4 linked regions of the Homo sapiens genome follow. The protein of the gene in region 1 interacts with the protein of each later gene in a biochemical or structural test. Each region holds a gene or a part of one and is shown on either strand. Other genes may lie near its edges.

Region 1 (6,550 bases):
CCCAGCTGAGTTATCAGCATTTCTGGGATTGAAAGAGAAACCCTCAAGGGCACCCAGAGTTGGCTGAACTGTCATGCCTAAAGGCAGATGCTGTCCCCTTCTGAGCTCACAGAAATTATTTGGTGTCACACTTTAGAGCCACCTAGGGGTTCTACAGAAGGTGCAAACCAGGCTGGCTTGCACTTTTAAATACTGAGACCTATCTATGGAAACCAATCCAAGTTTCAGCTCAGTTGAGTTGAAAACTCTCCATAAATTAGAATTTTTGATAGGATTGGATACAACAGCTTCCAACAACTTCCAGGGGGTGAAAAAGCTTTGGTTATTTTTAAACTAAAACTTAACAACTCCATCAACTTTTTTTTGGTAAACTTAAAATAAAATCCCCCCCACCACTTTTAAGAATGTTTCCAACTTTTAACAAGCCCATTAACTTTAGAGTTAATTTAAGTTTATTTGAAAGAGAAAACTATTTTATGGTCCACCCAAAAAAATGACAATTCATCACATTTACTTTGATTAAAAAAGGACTAAACTTTATTGACAAACTGCTGCAGACATTTTGACATAAGTTTAAGCTACCTATTTAGGCAGACTTACACATGTAGCATTTAATCTTCCGAGAACAAAATGGGAGGACGGTACAAATCCAATTAGGACTTTAACTTATGTACAAAGTGGATTTTGATTCCTTTTTCATTCAGCTGCAGTGTCCCTTTTTATATCATGCTAGTGTTGAGACATACTTGACTAACTTGGGAACAGTTCGATATATTGACAACCGTCAACTTAAGAAAATCAACAGCTTTTGGCCCCAGCGTCCAAGTGAACTTTTCATGGAGTGCAGAATCTCAAATGGACAAAATACTTTGTCTTTTTAAATACTGAAAATTTAATTATTAGTACTATGACTGAAAGATTCTTCATGGCTAAAAAGCTCTGCATCAAACTCAATTCAGGAGGCCTTCCCTCCCCACCACCATCAACCTCTTCAAAACCTACTCCCTCCCTCTAAGTATCTCTCAACACAGTATGTCTGGGGCTAGATTTCAAAACCCACGTAATGAAAAAGTCAGTTTTACAAGCCTAATTTTGTTGTTTTTTTTTTTATATCAATTAACGTTAAAAATTGCATCAACTATTTAATTCATGAGGATCTTTCATATTAAAATTTAACCTTAAGATTCAACCGCCATGTGCTTTTATAAAGGAAACATTTTTTAGAGACGTCTGAGCTCACTTTTACATGGTGGTGCCTACTGCCGTTAATGTTTGTGATTTTAAATCTTAAACAGCCCTGAATTTTGAAATGTAGCCTAGTTTGGGATTCTGCAACTACAACTTTACGGGATGCCTCAAATCAAAACTAAGAGAAACTTAACAAGCCTTTACTTCAGAACCTTTAAGCAAGCAATGTCATTTTTGAAACTAACAGGTTTGTGTGTTTTTTTTTTTTACTCAACTTCTTTTTTTTATTATAAAAGGTACACTTCTGTTTATATTTAAACAACAAAGAAAAAAGCATCTACACACTTAAAAAATTAATTCAATATTCCTAAATCTATTTTAACTCATTTTAAAATACTACATACAGAAGCCAGAATGCAGAGTTAAGAATGGAATAAGGTGGGGAGAAGAAGGGGACCACGAAGAAAAACACTTAGACAATTACTTGTCTGTTGTGGGTAAAGCAACAGGAATCCTGGGAGATACAAGAAATCAGTAACAACTTTGCTCATAACTGATATTTTCCCCTCATGTTTGTTTTTAATAACGTCCATATGGGTGCTCTCTGTATGCTCCCTTCACTGGCCTAGCAGGAGGGGCCTTCAGCGACGGCCTGGTCCCATTCCAGTCGTCCTGGCCTGTGGGGAAAACAAAGACAGTTTATAAACCATGTGGCGACAGCACTTAGGGATAAGCAGGGATAGGTCACATAGTAAAGATCACCAAAAACACTGAGTTTCTTCTAATGTCTTGACACTTCCCCTGGTGTTCCTTGCTCTCTACTTGGCTTGGCCCTCTTGGGCAGCCTGGGCAATTTTTCAGTTTTGAGTGGAAGGACAGAAGGGAACAAATCTAAAAAGGCTGCCATTGACTCTGGAGTAATCTCCCACAACGAGGTTCTTCATAGACAAATGTGATCTGTACGCCAGTCCCCAAACCTGGAGATACCCAACACCTTGCTTGAGATAGTGAGGAACTCATTAATCTTAGTGAGTCTGCAATGGCCTTTCCTGTTCCCAAAACAATTTGGCAGGCACCCTCAGGTAAGGTGGGAAGACTTCTGGAAGTCTTTCAGATTGGAAGCAGGCAGCCAGCCCCACTTCCATGCAACAGCAAGTCACGTTTCCTTACGGAGAAGTGTCCTCTAGCTCCCTGGGAAAACCAAGCAAGGGCCACTTTCCATGGGGCCCTCCACCAGCAGAGCTGATACTGCTCTCTCTGGTAGAGGGATGTGCAATCAAATGTTGCACTGACAGCACTGTTTAAGATAATTCCAAGGCTGCATGCGGTGGCTCACGCCCGTAATCCCAGCACTTTGGGAGGCCAAGGCAGGCAGATCACAAGGTCAGGAGTTCGAGACCAGCCTGACCAACAGGGTGAAACCCCATCTCTACTAAAAATACAAAAATTAGCCAGGCGTGGTGGCGCATGCCTGTAATCCCAGCTACTCAGGAGGCTGAGGCAGGAGAAGTGCTTGAACCTGGGAGGCAGAGGTTGCAGTGAGCTGAGATTGTGCCACTCCACTCCAGCCTGGACAACAGAGCCAGACTCCATCTCAAAAAAAAAAAAAAAAAAAAAAAAGGATAATTCCTTATCTCCTTTCTTAAGTCAACAGGTGAGAGAAGCCAGAAGCCAGACAATGTGGTTCACATCCTCAAATGGTTCTCCTTTGTGACAGGGAAAAGCCTGAGGAATATGATCACATAATTCTAGAGGTGACCTCTTATGAAAATAAATTGCGTTAAATTTATTCTTCCCACACCTTACACACGCTAGTTCATCCCTGAAGTATTTTTCCAGCTGCCTGTATTCACAAGTATCTGCCTCCATCTCTATAGGCCTCAAACTCCTATACAGATCTAAAGTCACACAGAACCCTAATTATACCCCTAGTATAACACACATGTCCATCACTTTCCAAGTGGCTTCTGGGTATCAACAAGACAGTTTCTTTTTCTTTTTTTCCTGACGTATACAGATCATCCTGGACAGTTTATTTCTCTAATTCTGTTAATCAAAGCAGAGATCAGAACGGATTAACTGTGGCAACGTCGTATCAGGAGCACAAAGAGAAGCCTGCCTCTTTCAGTTTGGTCTTTTCTCCAGCAAAACAGAAATGCAATTTAGTCAAACACATACAGAGGCCCCACTGTACTGCCTCACTGATGGAGGGAAATACTTGGGTGCAATCACACACAGTGTTAGTGATTGGCAACTGTCCAGTGCTATTTCGCTAAAACTGGTAAAAACAGTTTCCTTGGGCAAGCAGCTGATTGGCTACTTCATACTGTGCTGAGTTGGGCTCAGCTTGTCTGTCTCTGGGAGGCCCTAAGGGGCTCCTCTTTTTCAGCTAGGGATAAGGGGAGACTGTCAACCAGTATCTTAGCGTGAACTGTCAATCGCTGAGCCCCTGCCAAGGACTCTCTGGAAGTCCCTCAGGTATGCTGAAAATACCTTATACTGAAAAGGTAGCTCTCGCTGCATCCACTGCCACATAGTATTCCCAGTGAGGCCTATTAACACAGGGCCATAACTGGCTCTTGAGGACACACTTGAGCGATGTGTTTTTAACCAAACCTCAGGGAAGGCAGCCTTGTCCTGCTGCTGTTGCAGCCTCCATAGCTCTCTTGGGATCAAGGACTGTGTTGATGTCTTCAAGCCAACAAGGAGCTTGGTGCCAGTACTGTCCTGAATTATTGGCTCTAGCCCCTACAGCCTCTAATCTGATTCTAATAGGCACTATTTTTTTTTTTTGAGACGGACTTTTGTTGCCCAGGCTGGAGTGCAATGGCACGGTCTCAGCTCGTTGCAACCTCCGCCTCCCAGGTTCAAGTGATTCTCATGCCTCAGCCTCCCAAGTAGCTGAGATTAAAGGCGCCCACCACCACACCTGGCTAATTTTTTTGTATTTTTAGTAGAGACAGGGTTTCACCATCTTGGCCAGGCTGGTCTCGAACTCCTGACCACAGGTGATCCGCCTGCCTCGGCCTCGCAAAGTGTTGGGATTACAGGCATGAGCCACCACGCCCGGCCCTAATAGGCACTATTCTTGCCCCGCAACCTGGTCTGGCTAGCTGCTTGCCATCTAGGTCCCTTTCAGCTGACATTTCCTTTACAATGACATTCTTTTCAATGAGATCTAAATTTTTTTTTTAATGAAATGGGGTAGATGAGTACAGTTGTGTACGATTAAGTTCTTGTTATCTACCAAAGTGGCCTAGATATCGGCAGCAAAGGCCCAGAAATACAACCCAGGTCTAGCTATTTCCCTGCCTAAAGTAGAAAAAAAATAACATTAGCTTATAAGTCTGCTGCTCCAACCAGGGCCAAGCTGGTCTTGAGCCCTTGTTTAAGACAAACACTACCCTTCCAAGAGTAACGATACCCCACCTCACTTTAGCAGTCCCTCTTTCTACCATGTACCGCAAAATTTAAGCAAGAGCAGAACTCTTACTGTCACATCTAGCAAAATCTTGGCCTTCTAAAGGTTTATCCGTAGGTGTGTTTGTCTGACTCTCAATACTTTAGTCACCAGCATTCTCCCAGGCACTTACTTGTACATTCTGCCCCACCACAGAGATAAAGACATACCATAAGCTTCATAAGAATCTTGAACCTCCCCATGTCCATAGTCATAATATTCTGAGTCCCTGAAAGCCAAAGGCAGAGTGTTAGGAAGCTACAGAGTAACTATGTTTCAACTTTCTCTCAAATACTTCCATAAGTCAGTCATTTTACTAAGTGTATTAATACAGGAAAATACTCATTCTGCCCCATCCCTAAACCGTAAAGTATTTCCAAAATATGTATAGACTATGTACTTATAAAATAATTGACAACTATTGCAAAGAAAAATGGATACCACAGAATATAAAGTGAAAAAGCACAATCCTAAATTGACCCTTTTAATATAGCATATATATACATGTATTCATAGGGCTCACCAGAAGGAAAAAAGAACTGTTTTATCACTGCTGTAGAATTCTGGAACTCTTTTTCAATCAATTCACAGGTAAGCTATATATATGGACACACAAGGAAATGGTCTTAAAGAGAAATGCAGAAAAGAACCTAAGTTATGGTAATGGAATTCAAGTTTCTTGTAAAATTTTATGGAGCTTTAATGTGGTTTTGATATTTTAAAATAATAAATCAAAATAACATAAAGGCATTTCTCCTTGTTTCCATGTAGTCACAGCTTGGAAATTTTTCATTTGTTACTCTCAGGTTCTAAATTATAATTTAAGGTTCACAGTTATCCAGATTTACAAATCCAAGTGTGTGCTTCACAGATGTCAAACGCAGAGGAAAGCATTGCATGGTGGCACGCACCTGTAACCCCAGCTACTAGAGAGAGCTAAAGTGGGAGGACTGCTTGAGCTCAAGAGTTCAAGACCAGTCAGGACTGTGGGGGTTGCAGAGGAGATACCCTCAAAAGGCGAACCATTCTGCTCCTTAGGGTTGTACTGTCTAAATCTCTCTGTTCCTCCAACTCCCTCCATCCATCCTCAGGACAAAAAACAGTGCTTATACTGCCTGACTCACCCTTGACTCTGGCTGTAATAGCCTTCGTAGCCTTCGTAACTTTGTTCTGCGTATGTATCATCATATCCCTAGAACAACAACAACAAAAAAATGAAATAAAAGATCAAAATCATAGAGAGTAGGAAAGGTAATTACATCCCATGGGAGTAAGTAGGCTTCTGAATTAAAAGGACATGACATTTCCCTCCAAAATGTTAATGCCTACTGTAGAATAGTCAAAAGAGAAAGGGTTACTAAACAAAGAAAACCCAAACAAATATGATATGCCACAGAAGAAGTGTGGGCAGGAAGTAAAGTACAAAATCGAGCTTTAGTATTATCAGTACTAGTAGTAAGAAATTCATTATAAAATACTACATTAAAGTACATTTTATTTCTTGTTTAATCTACAGGCGTATAGTAAAACCCTGCCTAAAATGGAAAAATCTTCTAATAGTTCAACATTCACTGCAAGAGAAGAGGGCAGATTGCAAATCTTACAGGCAGTCCATGACACCTACATAAAGGACCGAGGCCCTGTCATTCAACTTCCTTTAGCAGCCTTCTAGGTACTGGGAAATGGCACATTGTTCAAATTTCTTACATATTCTTCATATGTTTCTGGTGCAGGAGGTGGAGGCAAAGGTATCCTCTGGATGCCCGCTGTCCGTGCTCTTGGTGCTGGAGCACCCCTCACAGTAGGTGGGGGTGGCACGCCTCGAGTCACAGTGGCACCTCTGGTGATGGCTCCCCTTACTGGTGTACCACGTACCAAAGCCCCCCGAGGTGGTCCAACACC
Region 2 (7,040 bases), on another chromosome or scaffold:
GGCAGGACGTGCTGCACCCATTGCCTGTGTTCTGGAAACCCTCTACACTGGAGGAGCAAGCCTCCTTCCAGCCTTTCCTCTGCTGATGGTGAATTCTGAGTCTGTGGTTTGGTAAATTGCAGAGCAGAGAGGTTTTACGGGATGTGCGTGTTAGCCAGAGCTAGCCGATGAGAGGCCTGGGGCCCACGCAGGAGGAGCTCTGCTGGCTCCAGAGTGCTGGGAACACACTGCAAAGGTTCTCTCAGGACATTCTGCAAAGGGTTTGCTCATCCCCACGGGGAGGGGGAGCTGCCTGAACACGAAGGGTCCTGTGCTTTCGGTCAGTTCATGAAGGCACGCAAGTAGCTTCCATCATGGGGATGGCACTCAGCCCTGGCTTCCTTCTTCTCTGCCAGGCCCCTGCTTGGGGTGGGGTTGAGAAGGGCAGGCAGCTGCTACTAAGGTCAGGCTCCCTGGCATGAAGCTAGGCTCCTTTCCTGGCTTTCTGAGCTGTGCCTGGGGAGACCCTAGGTAAACTGGCTTTGGCCTCTGACCGCTTGTCTTGAAAATGGTCCTGATGATGCTGGATGCAGAATGCAGATTCCTTCGTTTGAAAGTTTTTCAGTAAAGATTTGAATTCAGGTCCACCGGGTTCTTTGTGCTCACAGGCAGGTATAGGTATATATCAATTCATGTGGTAGAGAAAAGCTCGTTTATCTAAAACAAACAAGAAATTGTATCTATTTGGATTTGGGAGGTATTGCACTTTCACAGTTGTTTTATTTCCTGATTGTTTATTTCAGACAAATACCAATCATGAATGTTCTGATCCTCTGCAGGACTCTTTGGGGAATGCAAATAATAGCCAGTTTAGCAGTTACCATCGATGGTGAAACATACTTAACACTCGTGTTTTCGTGTGATTCCTGCAGGTCATTGAATGTACCCTAATGTGGGGTAGGTTTTTGGATTCTGTTTTACAGATGAATTAACTGCAACTTGGAGCAATTCACCAACTTGCTTAGGGTCTCGCAGCTGGCACAGGGCAGAGCTAGGGCAATGCAGGTCAGGTTAGCTCCAAAGGAGGATGTGGATATAAGGTGGGGCCCTTCTCTTCAATTAGAATCCGGGCAGGAAGGCCAGGCTCAGCCCTGTTCCATGGTGACAGAGCAGTACAGGGTTGTCTTTAGGACTGCCTCACTGTAGAGACATCTACCATGTGCCCTGCAGGTGAGTTCATGGTGGGCAACGCAGGCGGGTCACTGTGAGGCAGGAGGAGTAGAGCAACTTCAGGCTGGTATCTGGTCCCCAGTAATGCTTAGGGTAATAAATTAAGGGTTGACCTTGTGGACATAATATATTCTTCCTCTGTTTAGATCATCCCAGATTTTATTCTTGGTCCTGGGAGCTACATGCTTAGGAATTGGCCCCAAACTCATTCATTTCTGTGCCCTTCTTTTTTTTTTTTTTTCTCAGCCCTTAGATTGTGACTCCAGCCCCACAGGAATGAGAATGTGCAGCCACAGCCTGCAAGGGTCTTTTTCAGGGCCAGTTCCATTATGGAATGAGTATGGTGTTGGGCAGATCAGTGCTTGAATCCTACCTGTGGCACTTCCTAGTTGTGCAACCTTGGGCTGTCACTCTGAGCCTCAGTCTCCTCACCTGTAACTTCACAGGGCTCTTGGGAAGTTGGCCTGAGATAATTTGGGGTAGTGTCTACCCAGTGCCTGACCTCACCATGGACATGCACCATATACTAGTTGCCATCTGCTGTTCCTGATCACCAAGGCACTGCAGGTGATTTAGGACCCAATCGGTCAATCTGAGAGAAAAGGAAAGACTGAGGCAAGAAGGACGGCCCAGCTTTTCACAGTCTGATGGGGAAGTGGGTTACACGCCCCATGGAAAACACCCAGCCTCCAAGAGGAACAGATAAACACAGAGCAGCTGTTCAGACCTGGAGGGGTTCCTGGAGCTGAGCATTGGGATCTGGTGGTGGCTTTCTGGTAAGCTGGGAAGAAACAGAGGTTAGGAGAGAAGGAAAGAGGTTGCTCTGGGTAAGGGCAAGGTCAAATAGGATCCTAGCCCCAAGGTCAGCACCACACATGGGTTAACACTCTTGCCTGCTCTCTCTGTCCCTCTGTCTCTCTTACACATGCACAAGCATGGGAACGGTTTCTTCTCTGGGGAGGGAAGTGATCGAGGGGTGATTCACGGGTCTGACAAGGCTCCCTGCTCATGGAACAACCAACCACACCCTTCAAGGCTGTTGGAACAGGGAGCACAGCCAGCCATTTATCGCAACCCTGTGTTGAGCTGAGTGAGGGCTTTTGGGGGGCAAACCAGGGTAGAAATTACCATGTGTGGTGGCAGGCAGAGGGGAAGGGAAGAGAAGGGAAAAATAAACCTATTTGATGTCAGAGGAGACCGATTCCAGCCCAGAAATACAAGCCCCAGCTGCTGCATTTTCCAAAGAGATATTCCGGGGCCAGCATGAGTTAACTGACCGTGGAGGCTATGAATTAGGGAAGTGTTGTTAGGACTTCTGACTTTGGGTTTGCACAGCAGTTCCCTGTAAATTGCCTTCTAATTGCCTCAGCCTGAGTCACTGACCAGACTATTTCTTGGCCAGAAAAAGTCTAATGGGCAACTGTGTTCTCTTTTACCTCTTAATTAAACAAAATGAAACAAATAATAGAGTTATACACATGGTAGTCCCACTTACTCCTCTCGAGTTCTGAGAATCCAGGAAAGGGATAGTAGATTAGGATAGGGACCCAGGGGACAGGAAGGACAAGGGGTGTGTGTGGGAAATGAGGTGGAGATTCTGGCTTTGGAAATAGGTTCTGAGTGAGGGCCAGAGGTGTTCTCTGCCATGACAATTGCCAAAAATAATGGAAGCGCCCAATAGAGTGATCAGGGCTTCCAGAGGCGGATTCCCAGAGCAGCGTGCTACTTCCTGCCTGGCCCGGGCTTCTGCTGCCTGTAGTGCAGCCAGTCACAGGTGGGCAGGTGAATGGAAGGTCAGGAGCCTAGCTGTGAAGGGGATGGGGGTCACATGAGGATCCCTCTTGTGCCTCTGGGTAACCCCCAGGCAAGTCACCATATCAGCCGCAGAGACTGAGCCCCTGCTGTGTGCATGGTGCCGGTCAGAGTCCAGCAAGGCTGTCCAGACCCCATAAGAAGGGGGAGAACTAACATACAAGCACCTACTATGTGCCAGGCAATGCAGAAGATGCCTTTAGAGGCGATTTTACTTGAACCTCATAACAACCCCATGCGGTTAGGTAGGTGTTTTTATTCCCATTTTATAGATGGGGAAATTGAAGCTCGGAGGGTTCGTATCATTCTACTCAGAGTAATTCTGTGGCAGGGCTGGGATTCTCACCCTGGTCTCTGACACCCACATCTGTGAGTGCCACTTCTTCCCCATCAGAGCTGGCTTGGTGAGAGAGAAAATAACCAGTGAGTCCAGGCAGCACCACCTGGGGATGAGGGGTGCACCTGGGAGGCTGTGTTGTCCCAGAGCACCTGTGTGCCGTATCCCTTGGCTGAGCATTGGGATATCCTGGCCCCACCACTCGCTGCCGTGGGATACAGTGCAAGTTACTTATGTCTCTGAGCCTCAGTTTCCTCATCAGTAAAAAAAAAAAAAAAAAAAAAAAAAAAAAGAATATATGGGGAAAGTTGGACCTAGCTCTTAGGGTTATGATGAAGATGAAATGAGTTTGTAATTGTAAAGAGCTTAGACCGGTACCTGGCGCCTTATGGAGCTCAGCATAAGTATTTGCTTTCACAATCACTAAGTCCTGAAGCTGTTCAGAGGAGGGAGAGCACTCTGTGAACTGGAGTTTCCAGGGAAGACCGACTGGAGAAGGCAGCTTCATGATGGACCTTGAGGTGTAATTAGGATTTGGCTGGGAAAGAGTAGGATTTAGATGGGAAAACTGGGGAAGGGCATTCCAAGAAAGAGAAAAGCAAAGGTGCTGGAGGTGGAACGTGCAAGGAAAAGCTGGGCAAAGCCGAGGGTGGATGAGGGAGAGAAGGATGACAGGAAAGCTCAGGGCCAGCTCTGAGAGGCTCCGATGGCAGCAGAGGGAATTCAGTTTATTCTGTAGACACCTTGGAACCTTCCTTTTCTCCCAAGGGCTTGGCAGGGAGAGGGAGCTAAATAGTCACTTTGAGGTCCTCCCGGTGGGCTCCAGCGCTGTTTTTGCGACTGTGCCTGGAACAGAGCTAAGTAAGGACTGGAACCTTTTTCTAGCTCTGCCTGGGGGACTCTTTAGTTGGCCAGCTGGGTCCCACCCCTCCTGTTTACAGCTCTCACTCCTAGGGGTCTGGCTTCCCCATAAAAAGTTGATTGCACCCAGGCTCCTGGGGAGGAAGGGTTGAGGAGGAGGAGGAGGAGGAGAGGGAGCAGCAGGAAGTGAGGTGTCAGCTGCTTTGGGTCTTAACTAGCTTGGGAGGGCCTGATGCAGCAGCGTTTCAGGTGGAGTAATTTCCATCCACACTCCCCCAGTGGCAAGAGCGAGAATGCGCCCATCCTCGTAGGTTCTGGGGGCCAATACCTCACAGTCTGAGGGGAGCCCAGCATGTCTGTGTCTTCTGAACCATCTACACTAATGTTGCCTTCTACTTCAGGATCTCTCTGAACTTGTTTTAGTTGGTTTTTTTTTTTTTTGAGTTGGGGTCTCGCTCTGTCACCCAGGCTGGAGTGCAGTGGTGCGATCTCGGTTCACTGCAGCCTCCGCCTCCCGGGTTCAAGCGATTCTCGTGCCTTAGCCTCCCAAGTAGCTGGGATTACAGGCATGCACCACCACACGCAGCTAATTTTTGTATTCTTAGTAGAGGTGGGGTTTTGCCATGTTGGCCAGGCTGGTCTCGAACTCCTGACCTCAGGTGATCCACTCGCCTCAGCCTCCCAAAGTGCTGGGATTACAAGTGTGACCCGCTGCGCCTGGCCTGAACTTGTTTTAGTTTTAAATGCAGTGCTTCAGCTGGGCATGGTGGCTCATGACTGTAATCCCAGTGCTTCAAAAGGCCAAAGTGGGGAGGATCACCTGAGGCCAGGAGCTCAGACCAGCCTGGACAATGTAGCAAGACCCCATCTCTACAAAAAAATTAAAAAATAAGCCAGAATAAGCCAGGTGTGGAGGCATGCGCCTGTAGTTCCAGTTACTCAGTCGGCTGAGATGGGAGGATGGCTGGAGCCCAGGAGGTTGAGCCTGCAGTAAACCGTGATCACACCACTGCACTCCAGCCTGGGTGACAGAGTGAGACCCTGTCTCAAAAAAAAAAAAAATTCTAAAAAGCTAGGCATCGTGATGAACACCTGTAGTCTAGCTACCCGGGAGGCTGAAGTGGGAAGATCACTTGAGCCCAGGAATTGGAGGCTGCAGTGAGCTATGATTATGCCACTGCATTCCAGCCTCGGCAACAGCAAGACCCTGTCTCTAAAAACAAATAAGTAAATGCAATGCTTCAAACTACCTCTTCATTTATTTGACCTCTACCACACTCCCAGATAGTCTAGTAAACCTTATTCTTAGGGAAAATGTAACAATAAAAATAACAGCTGACCTTTCTAAATGTTTTCTATGTGCTAAGCATCTCATATGGATGTTCTCAGAACAGCCCCACGCAGCATGTAGCTCCCACCAGCATCCATACTGTACAGGTGACAGCACAAAGGCTCAGAGAGCTCAAATGAATTGCCAGATGCCACGCAGCTGATGAGCTGCATGTGGAGAGGCCTGCACTGACCCAGGTCTGCTGGCTCCAAAGCCTGCCCTGTCCCCACAGAGACCGCTTAATGACACATTACACACCCAGGATGCCTGGGCTCCATGGTTCCACCTTAGGCCTAGTTGGTTGGCTCCTCAAGCCGTGAGATCTTCCACATGTCACCTCCCCCTTCTAGAACTACATTTGCCCATCTAGAAAATGGTGCAACTGTTTCTTTTCAGGCTTGCCTTGCAGAGCGGAGGGCAGGTATAACAGCTGCTTTGGAAAGCACTGAGCCCAGAGATGATAGCTGTGTGAGGAGGTCCCTTGATCCCCCAGTCTGGGTTCTTAATTATCTAGGGCAGGGATGCTATACAAAGTGAGTTGTTCCTGACCCCAGGGAATTTTTAAACAAGGTTCACCTGCCCAGCCACCTCTCCTGAGAAGCCTCATAGACAGAGTCGACTCAGGAGTACTTAGGCTCTTAGTGAAGATCTCTTCTAGAAAACGGCCTCTGGTTTTCCTTCTTTCCAAACCAATCATTTTTTTGTGAACAGGAAAAGACAGAGTTATTCCCAGTCCCATCTCTCCCTGCTGTTACCTGAGCGGAGGAAGTGATATCTAAGTGGCTGAGTTAGCAAAGGGGAAACAGCTGTGGTTTCTGCCACTCCACTGGGCTGCTTTCTCTGTCCCTGTGCTGTCATTTCCCTTTGGCTGGCGAGGAAGCCACCCTCCCCAAGCCTGGGCGGAGGCCCATGGCTGGGTCGGGGTAGACTCTGTGTGTGTGTGTCAATGCAGCATAAATTATGCAGTGGGGCGGGTGGGACAATTTAGCCTGTTTCTGGGATCCCTGGAGCATGAACTTTAGACCTGTTGGAAACTGATCACTCTTACCTGATCTGACCACAACTTCAGGGAGTCAGGAATGGAAGTAATGCCCCATGTTGAGAATGAACTTGCAGGGTGTACCAGGTGGGGTAGGGATTGATGGAGTGTGGGCTGGTTTGCACTTTTGCCTATCACTGTGTGGTCCCTGATGGAGAACCTACGTTGTTTTCCTTTTTTGAGGCGTACTCTCACTAAAGGAGACCTTGGCACGTATTGTATCACCATCATCATCATAGAGCTGTTACAGGAAAGGGGTCCCGATCCAGACCCCCAGAGAGGGTTCTTGGATCTCCAGCAAGAAAGAATTCAGGGCAAGTCCATAGAGTAAAGTGAAGGCAAGTTTATTAAGAAAGTAAAGGAATAAAAGAATGGCTGCTCCATAGACAGAGCAGCCCCGAGGGCCACTGGTTACCCATTTTTATGGTTATTTCCTGATGATATGCTAAACC
Region 3 (7,282 bases), on another chromosome or scaffold:
TATATGGCTACCAAGTAAAATGCCATTTACCGCTCAAATTCCCTCAGAATGCAACCAGTAAAGGCATGCTCCACCTCCAGTTTCATCTCAAAACAACAGCTGAAACTCTTCTTTTTTAAACTTAAATTTGATCACTTCCCACCTCTGCTCAAAACCCTCCAATGTTTATTCAGAGTAAGCCCAAGTCTTCACATGGCCTCCCAAGATCTGGACCTAAAACAGGGGTCTGAAAATCGGCTCATGGTCCACTGCCTTTATGTACAGCCCACAGCGGTAAGAATAATTTTTACATTGTTGAGTAGTTGGAAAAAATCTAAAAGTAGAGTACCTTGTGACATGTGAAAATTATACAGAGTTCCATCCAATTCTGATGTCCACAAATGAAGATCCACTAGAACACAGCCAGGTTCATCATATGGATGGCTACTTTGTGCTACACCCTTTCTGTATGTCATGTGAAGCCAATCTAAAATAATTATAATCTGGTTCTTTAAACAAAGAGTTTGCAGACTCCTGCCCTAAAGGACCAGTGTATATAAGGAATTAACTTCTCCCTATACATCTACAATGGAAGCACTGAGAAAACAGGCGCTCAAATTATCTGCTAAATTTTCAGGTATAGATGAGGAATCCTGACTGAGAAAAACTATCTGGCCACTAGGCCCAGCCACTGCAGCTTCCCTGCGGTTCATGACCATGGCCAGTATTCTCCCTTCAAAACTTTTACCTGCTTTCCTCTGGGTTCAGGATGCTTCTCCAAAATATCCTAGGCTTGCTTCCTCACCTCCTTCAAGTCTTTACTCAAAAGTCATCTATCAGGTGGGGCCTTCCCTGACCATCCCACTCAAAACTGCACTCCACTCCCATTCCCCTTTTCTGCTCTATTTTTCTTAATCTTCACATCAACCGATTGAGCACATCAATTAATACTTGCTGGTGACTGAGAGAACGTGAGCTCCAGAGAGGCTGGGATTTTTGTCTGTTGTGTTCACCACACCACTTAGAGGAATGCATGCCATATAGTAGATGCTCAACAACAACAAAAAATCACTGAATTGTATTGAAATACAATAGTCCCCTCTTTTCCAAGGTTTTGCTTTCCATGGTTACCCCATGGTCAGCTTCAGTTGGAAAATATTAAATGAAGAATTCCACAAATAATTCCTAAGTTTTAAATTGTGCACTGTTCTGAGTAGCAGGATAAATTCTCATGCCATCCCATTCCGTCCTGCCCCAGAAGTGAAACACGTCTTTGTCCAGCATATCCATGCTGTCTATCCACCTATTGCCCTCTAGCTTATCAGATCCATTGTGATGCTATCACAGTGCCTGAGTTCGAGTCACCCTTAGTTTACTAATAATGGCCCGAAATCATAAGAGTAGTGAAGCTAGCAATTCAGATACGGCAAAGAGAAGCCATAAGCACTACCCTTAAGTAAAAAGGTGAAAGTTTTTGACTTCTTATGGAAAGAAAAAAAAAACTTATACCGAGGTTACTAAGATCTACAGTACGAACAAATCTTCTATCCATGAAAATGTAAACAAGGAAAAAGAAATTCCTGATCGTCTGCTGTCTTGCCTCAAACTGCAAAAGTTGCGACCACAGTTTTAAATGCTTAGTTAAGGTGGCAACGGTATTACATTTGTGGGTGTAAGAAACGAGCAGACACATGTTCCAATTGACAGCAATTGGGTTTGGTACTACCCACAGTTTCGGGATCCACTGGGGAGTCTTGGAATGTATCCCCTACAGCTAAAGTGGGACTACTGTATATGCAAGGATACACTTCCCCATTAACAGCAACCATGATGCATTATGCCAGCATAATCGACAATACCAACCAAAACTATACAAGGGAATGGAATATTATTTAGTAACCATCCTTAACCAAACTACTGTTTAATAAACTTATTGATTTCATCATTCAGCCTTCAATGAGTCTTAAAAATCAAATGATGCCCACTACCAATGTGAAACAAGGTAAGCCTTCTAATTCGTCTTTCACAGAAGTTAACTTCTACAAAACCTAGTCAGCGTTTATCATATATTGTCCTAAAGCTGAAAACAAAATGAAAAATAAGCCACAGTTATTGCCATCGACAAAATTAAACTCAGCTGGGATTTCAACAGACTATCAAATAATTATAGTAAAATTTGTGTAATAAAAGATGTCGATAAGGAATCACACCTTTTCTGTATTACATCTTTTACTATATTACACAAATTATAGTAAAATTTGTGTAATAAAAGATGTCGATAAGGAAGCAACTCATGATCTGGGAAAGCAAAGGAGGAAATATTTAGGTTTGACTTTATAAAATAAAAAGGCTTTCCAGGCAAAATGCATAATGGGCACCCAGCGATGAAGGCTCAGTAAGCATGTGAAGTGCTACCGAACAACGAAAGGTTCTGGAAGGCAGTGTCCCGAGGGTGTGAGCAGGAAAAGGTACAGGAGATAAAGTGAGGAGTCTGTAAAAATAAACAGAAACTGCAGGAAATGCAAACTCACAGAAGGTTTTAAGTAACCGGACTACTGACAATTTAGGCCTTCCTCTCAGGGTGGAGGCACCGAGGAATATAACCTTGTAGTGCTACACCAAAGGAAGATCCCTGAAGACCAAACGGAAAATAAATTATGTTTGAAGTAAGGCAAGCTAAGTGTTGAAATTCTAGGAGTGAAAATAATTTAAGCTGGAAAGTTCCTGAAAAGCCATTAATAAAATACACTTTCATTTTTCATGGGCCAAAGTTATATAGGGACCTCCAGGTCTCCTTTGCTTGGCTTTTACAATCAAGAAACCCGAAACCGTAAAACTTCATCTCCCTTTAACTCAGATCCCTATCTAAGCATGGGCTAAGGAAACTAGCAAACAAAACAATGTTGTCATAGGACTCAGGAGGCCCCTAAGAGACCACATCAGTCCGACAACCTCCAGGCCTACCTGGGCCCATTGGAGGGGAACGAGAGGGATTCTAGTAGTCGCAAAGAAAGTACCTTGGCTTGTAGGGGCTGTGGCTGCAGATGCCAAGAGCCCCGGATATATGGCAGGCGCGAGGGGACCCAGGTTTAGCGGGCAGGCTGGGCGGGTGCACGGGGCGGATGGGGAACAGGGGCGCTGCGGCACACTCCTAGAACACCCTAGGCCTCCCAGTCCCTGGCCTCCTCCCCCTCATGGTTCCTAGGCCGGCGGCACAACCTACAGCGCACAAGCCCGATCCAACTCTCCAGAGGACGTCAGAACATGAGTAAGTCGGCGCCCTCTTACCCAGACACACAAACAGCACGGACTTGGTAGCCTGTTCCGCCATCTTCCCGCGCGCAGAGGCGCCGAGACACCGCGGCGTTCCGCACGCCGACGCGGCGCAGGCGCACTGCCACCCTCTTGCCCCGCGCGCCTGCGCAGTCCCGCACCAACGCCAACAGGGCAGCGCGTGTGAGAGCCACGCCTGCGCAATCGGCTCCAGTGCGCCTGCGGAGGCGGTCCTATGACGGTAGTAGGACGGGCGGGGAGGGTCCGCGGGTCACCTGCAGGGACTGGGCCGCCGTTCACCTGCAGGGGCGGGGCTGCAGGTTGTCCGGAGGAGGAGGAGCTGCGGGGGTGGGGTCACCTGGAGGGAGTAGGGCCGCGGAAGGCGAGGGGGTGTGTGTGTGTGGTGGCGGGGGTTGGCGGGGGGGAGTCACCTGGAGGGGGCGGGGCTGCGGGTCGCTTGGAGGGGAAGGAGCCGCGGGAGGTAAAGGTTACCTATAGGGGACGGGGCCGCAGGAGAGGGGTACCTGGAGGAGGAAGGGCCGCGGGTCACCTGCAGGGCGGGCTCAGGCCTCGCGGCTCCGCGGGCCGCCCACCTGGGTTGGGGCACAGCGCGAGTCTCGCGCACGTGGCGGGCTGTGGTGCCTGTCGTTCGAGTTCGCATAGAGGGGCTGGGCGGGTCACGCGGGGAACCTGCCTTGAGCCCCGCGGGGTCCACGCCGGACCAGGGCGGCCTTGGGCCTGGGCGCTCCCTGAGACCCCCACCCCCAACACCGTGCTTGGAGCCGCCGCGGGGCTCTGGGCTTTTCGATCTTGAGGACGGGGCGGTTCCGAAGTCCCTGAGGGCGAAGGCCTGAGCGCGGCCCGGCGGGCGCGTGGTTTTTGTCCCGCGAAACGTACACGGCGGGTGTTTTGCGCCGCCTCCTTCGTCACCTGCCGCAGGTACGCCCTCGCTGGGGCCTCCTTGTCCGCGGGGCGGGGCAGCGCGCCTTCCTCTTCCTGGGCAGCCTCGGGACGGGGCGCCGCGGCCGGGCGGGCAGCAGTGAGTACCCGGGGACCCACCTGTCCGGCAGCACCCTCCCCTCTCAAGAGCTGGGCGGTGGTGGGAGGAGGAGGACGGGAAAACCGGCGATGCCTCTGGGGTTTCTAGGTCGCGCGTCTGTTAACCGCAAACCGCCCAAAGTTAAGATAGAGCAGCTTCCAGGACTTTCTTGACCACAGCGATTTTGATTGAAGTTTAGCCACCGTCTTTTCCATTTTTAGAAAAGCTATTCCGAAGTTTGGAATGATGACGATGGTCGTGTTATTTTTAACTTCCTGATATTTGAACGGCGAGGTGTCAGCGACCATCCTTCCGTTCCACAGAAGCGTCTCTGAAGTTTGGGTCGAATGCGCGCGCTTGGAATGTGCGTGGAACCCGCGGCAGGCGCGGGGAGGAGGCCTTGGCTAGGGCGCCGGCGAGGTTCGAGTTTGCCAGCCCCCCAACCTGGAAGAGAAGGGCCAGCCCCTCACACCCGGAAGGGAAGGGCCGGTCCCCCCAACACCTGGCGCCGGGGTCGCGGGGCCACAGGGCGAGCGCGGGGTCGCGGCGAGCACGGGTCCTCTCTGATCGCTGGGCCTTGGCGCTGGCTGCTGAGTTTTTCCTTCTTTAAGGAAGTGTGGAACTGGTCTCAATCGGTTGACCACCTTAAGGAAATAGGATTTACACTGTGGACAGAGATGTGTCCTTTACACTTCATTTGAACCAATATGCCCATGCTCCTGTGGAGGCTGAGTTGGAAAGTGACACGAAGCTGCCCCCCCGCAAGAGAGCAGGTGCTCGGTTTCTCTTCTGCTTACAGGAGATGCATGTCCTGATTTCTTGTTCTCCTAGGTGTTTTTATTGAGATGTAGGGAATATCTGAATTCATAACGACTTAGAAAATCTGTACACACAGTTGAGAGAACAGGTCTCGAGGCTAAGGTGCTGTTTACTCCCGTGGGCTGGCCTGTTATTAAAATACTTGTGCAGCGACTGATGTTTACAAATTACTATGTTGGAGGTTAAAATGATCAAAGTGATAACCTCCATCCTGTCTATCATGTTTGAGGAGAATTGGTTATTTGGTTCACTAATGTTCTGTTTAAAGAAAATTTCTGTAAAACTAGTAAATGTTACCCCTCATCTTTTGTAAGTTAAAAAAAAGTTTAAAATAATGTTTGCTCATCAAAAGTGATTTGATACTTTTGTTCTGTTTAGGAAAACTTTATTCTCAAGAGATTTCTCATTCCGCAGAAATAAGGATCTGGCATGTCAACACAAACATAGGAAGTTGAGGCAGTCAAAGGGAAATAACTGCTACCCTGACTCTGCTGAGAGCCTCACAAGTCCCTGTGCACGCCAGCTTGTTTGCCAGTGAGTGGCGTCATGATAAGACAAAATTCTCTGCTCTGAGACCTAAGCACATGAAGTTTTTAAAAAAATTTTCTCTGAGAAGATCCCATTTTTTACTCTAAAAGATCAGACCAGTGTGGCATGTGTGGAACTGCTCTGTACCAAGATCACACTCTTCAGTTGGAGAAGAGGAAGGGCAGGAATAAATAAAGGGCTTTCCTGTCTCCCGAGGGAGCAGAGAAAGCTTTCGCTGTCCTCTTCCTTCCCCAGCCACAGCCTGGGGTTGGGGGACTGGAAACAAGCTCAGGCTAGCACTTGATGTTCAGACGGTAGTCTGAAAGTTTGACTAGGGAGTTAATGATCTGACCAGAGAGACAGGTTTTTATTTTGAGAACTGACAAGCTTTGTGTCCTTAAAACAAAGGAAGTAGTTAAACCAAGGCCCCAGAAAGGTAAGAATTGACTTAAGAAACAAAGGCCATAGTTGTCAAGCAGTGGAGTTCAAAATGCAGTTTTGTTAATAAAAGTAGCTTAAAGCAACATTTGAAAGCCTCTCTAAAGATTAGATACATACACTTTCTTTTGGCTAAGATTTCTTTAGTTTATTCTAAATATACCTTTAGCAGCATTCAAGTTCCTTTGATCTTAGATGGAATTTTATCAGTTTAATGAGTTAACCTCCATTTCACATAAAGTATAAGGTTTAATAATTTGATTAATATGTAATCAGTAAGAACTTGGAAAACCAAATTTAGTAAGCTTGCTTTCCTGTAAGTATTCCTTTCATAATTAGAGTCCATTGAAGAAAATAATATAAGGGAAGCAAAAGTTTGGGAATCTGAACTCTGGTAAGGAAAGTGGTGGAGAGGGGCCCTTGGGTCTTCTTGCTTTCATTCCTGACCCTCCGTGTACAACTAGATTGGAAACCGTAGTCAGCTTTGTCACCTCAGGTGGCAATTTACTCCGAGTAGGATTCTCATGTCCCTGTTTGTCCCCAGTGACTCTAGCATTGAGTTTATAGAACTGCGATCAATACCTAAAATTATTTCCAGATCTTAAGCTGATTTATGCTTTTGAGGTTTCCAAAGTAAAAATTGTCTTTCCGGTATTTTATAAGACCTTCTAATTTAAAAAAAAAATGTGTTACTATGAAAATTTAAAACATTTTAACTTTTGTTTTAAAGAAAACTTTATTTGAAAGTTTCTTAGCTTGAGGTTTGGCAGCCACTCTTTTTTTAGAAAAAACTTAAATATTTATAGAGATTTTGCCTGATTCAAGGGACTTAAGACGTTTATGAGAGTGCAGATGCTAACCATGATGTGAGGTTTAAGAGGCTTCATTAGTAATGACCTGTGTCTTCATCAGTATGATAGAATGGGACATCAGCACTCTGATCAGGTCATGCTCTATATGCCTTATGGTACAGCAGAGGAAAAATGGGTGAGCCATCATTTGATGCTGAGGATGGGATTTGAGGCTTATGTCTAAATTTTTATTTGCATATTCTTTTTGTTCTGACAGAGAAATTCACTGCATGTAACTATGACCACGCATGATTTTATCAGAAGTTGATTAGAATCTGTAACATTTTCTGTAGTTCAGCTGACACACTGAAGATGTCCTCACTGTGACCAGCCTTGTCAACAGCTGGATCACAGT
Region 4 (2,574 bases), on another chromosome or scaffold:
GGGAGAGAATGGAATGAATTGAGCTGATTTCAAGGAAAAGGAGCATGGGACATGTTGAGATTTTTGGTATCAGTGTTAAACGGTGATTGAAGCCACATAGGTTAGCAGCCCCCATAGAAATAACTGCCTTTTGTAGCTTGGAACTACTAAGCAGACATCTTTTAAGCCCTTAGCATTTTTTTTTCCTGTATTTTATACATTAGAGGAATAGCATAAAGTGTTGCTCTTGGAATCTAGGGCTTTCCTTACTGTGGGAACACCTCCTTGGGTTCCTGTCTCACTCACTTTGATTACCAATGTCATTCTGCCACGTATGTTCCATATGTCCTATCTATCTGCCCTGCACAATTATGAGAGGGAAGGAATTATTGCATTTATAAAATCCTTTTCAAAAGAGGCCATTAGCAAAAATACTAATCTAAAGCTTCAGCTTCTCCCTGGGCCTTGCTCTGATGCTAAGGTTTAAACTGCCCCTGAAGGAGGAAGAAAATAAATAAATTAAATGCTTAGCTCTTTTAGACAGAAGTAATCAATTATGCAAGATATCCCTTGGTTTTATTTTAACTTAACCTTTGTGAATACTTCACAAAAATACACATACAGAAGTAAATAAAACTATACAGTTGAACTAAATATCCAGCAGATACAACAAGTAGTCAGAAGTTCAAAGATGGATAAGTTAGGCAGCTGATGAGGTTGTCTGCATAATCAAAGGGGTAGCACAAATAATGAACAAATAACTTTTAACAAAAGCATTCTAGTTAACATAAAAGAAATTGGTAGTCTATAAAATGGTTGAATGGGTAACATGCATTGATCAATACAACAACCAATAATATTTACTGAATTCAAACTATTTACTTGTAAACATTTAACAAAGCATTATGAGATCTAAATACAGTCTTTGACAATTTCAACAAAATAAGTCGTATGTTTAAAAAATAAAGCTGATGAGCAATAGATCATTCTATATATTTTCTTTCAACAGTTCCAGCAAGAGAAATAGCAGAGTATTTTTTAAAAGTATACAGCAAAGATTGTTCCTATTATAATGACAAACTCTGGAAACTGTAAATACAAATAATCATTGAACAGTCAAATGGTCATATTCCTAATCAGGAAGTAGTTACAGTAAGAACAGTCTGCAATCCAGTTATACACAATTGTCAATAAGAATGTGTTTCTTGTCAGTTGATTTCATAGTTCTTTCTCTAAGAGACAGCAAAACTTTGGCAACTGGGTGTACTGAAAATATATTTTGAAAGTTCGAGATATCAAGATACAGTCATAGCATTTCGTTTTGTGAAAGGTGGTCTGTACACCAAGGCTCAGAGGTTGTTAAAGATTGATTCCATGTGGAAATAGTGCAAATATCCTGCACAGATAGCTTACAAGGTTGCTGGCATAGTTATTCACCAGCAGAATCTTGGATTTTGTTTGCATAGCTCACACATCACTGGAATGTGGAAAAGTGTGCTATTTTTTGGCAAGAGCAAAGGAGACATTAAACTGAAGTGAATTACCATGTTGGACATGCTGAATCCATGCAGAACACTGGGGCGAAGGCTGCTACCTGACATCATTGGTTTTTGTATACTGGTTTTGTTTTTGTTGAAGCAGTTCTGTTATAGCCAGAAGCTTTTTCAATACGTGCTAGACAGAGGAAAAATGGTATGAAAATAAATGAAAGCTCGGTCAGCAATTTCAGGATGGGAACCTGGATTTGAAAAAAACTGTATCAAAGCAAAAGGATGCATAAAATATTACCACAATTCCCCTCAAAACATAAGTCTCTATTATTCAGTCATTGGCTGAGTATTTCTGGTCATAACTAAGAGAATTTTTATACCCTAAAGTGAACAGAAATTTGTTTGTGTTTGGCATGCTCCTATTTTTTAGGCCAGAACTATCACACTATCACATGTTGTCAGAAGCAGTTTATCTCTCTTTTAAAAAAGGCTTTTTTTATTTAATATCTAAGGCAAGTCAAGTCATATTATTAGTTTTGAAAGCTGCGGGGGGAGGGGCGGGGAGAAACAGGACTTGAGGATTCTAGAATCTCAGGTTGTAGAGAACTCAGTCACCAAACTCAATGCTTTAATCCCTTCTACAAAATCCCTGCCAAATGGTTAGCCAGTGCGGTGACAGCATTCACTATCTCCTGAAACTACATTAGAAACTAGTCAAAACTGTCCCTGTGGTCACTTCCTCTCAGTAGCCCTTATGTCAGCTGAGGACATTCAAAGTGTAACTCATTTTGTTCTATATCTCCAATATCTTAATTGACCTGGTATTAAGTCCCTTCAAATTCTGGTCTGGTCTTTGAATACATCCTTATCTGTATCTGTTTGGTGCAGATGGCAGATAGAAGTCTATCAATGTAGTCTACTGTTTCTCAAAGTGTAGGCCATGGTTCACTTGCATCGGAATACCTATAAATTCCTCTAAGAGTTTGTTAGACGTGCAGCTTTCAAGGCCACACTTCAGAACCTCTGGATGTGAAATTTGACAAACATCCCAAATAATAATCATTTGTTTCACAGTTTGAGAATCACTTTGGCCATGCACTATATC

What was found.
Region 2: the proteins of KHDRBS1 (region 1) and SH3PXD2A interact in a test that uses a peptide from one of them, tested with the Homo sapiens proteins (one study listed by BioGRID).
Region 3: the proteins of KHDRBS1 (region 1) and SH3YL1 interact in a test that uses a peptide from one of them, tested with the Homo sapiens proteins (one study listed by BioGRID).
Region 4: the proteins of KHDRBS1 (region 1) and RASA1 form a complex in vitro, tested with the Homo sapiens proteins (2 studies listed by BioGRID).

What each region holds. Positions count from the first base shown.
Region 1 is NC_000001.11:32,037,842-32,044,391, reverse strand, and holds the end of KHDRBS1 (KH domain-containing, RNA-binding, signal transduction-associated protein 1), read right to left. Parts: coding exon 6,356-6,550; exon of another isoform or gene 6,273-6,355; intron 5,841-6,272; coding exon 5,773-5,840; intron 4,878-5,772; coding exon 4,819-4,877; intron 1,866-4,818; coding exon 1,768-1,865; 3' UTR 515-1,767; downstream 1-514. UniProt on the Homo sapiens protein: Recruited and tyrosine phosphorylated by several receptor systems, for example the T-cell, leptin and insulin receptors. Once phosphorylated, functions as an adapter protein in signal transduction cascades by binding to SH2 and SH3 domain-containing proteins.
Region 2 is NC_000010.11:103,845,559-103,852,598, reverse strand, and holds part of SH3PXD2A (SH3 and PX domain-containing protein 2A), read left to right. Parts: intron 1-7,040. UniProt on the Homo sapiens protein: Adapter protein involved in invadopodia and podosome formation, extracellular matrix degradation and invasiveness of some cancer cells. Binds matrix metalloproteinases (ADAMs), NADPH oxidases (NOXs) and phosphoinositides.
Region 3 is NC_000002.12:260,993-268,274, reverse strand, and holds the start of SH3YL1 (SH3 domain-containing YSC84-like protein 1), read left to right. Parts: upstream 1-4,242; 5' UTR 4,243-4,290; coding exon 4,291-4,291; intron 4,292-5,488; exon of another isoform or gene 5,489-6,074; intron 6,075-7,144; exon of another isoform or gene 7,145-7,282. Other genes in the region: ACP1 (low molecular weight phosphotyrosine protein phosphatase), read right to left, coding at 3,268-3,310.
Region 4 is NC_000005.10:87,389,879-87,392,452, reverse strand, and holds the end of RASA1 (ras GTPase-activating protein 1), read right to left. Parts: exon of another isoform or gene 1,654-2,574; coding exon 1,570-1,653; 3' UTR 537-1,569; downstream 1-536. UniProt on the Homo sapiens protein: Inhibitory regulator of the Ras-cyclic AMP pathway. Stimulates the GTPase of normal but not oncogenic Ras p21; this stimulation may be further increased in the presence of NCK1.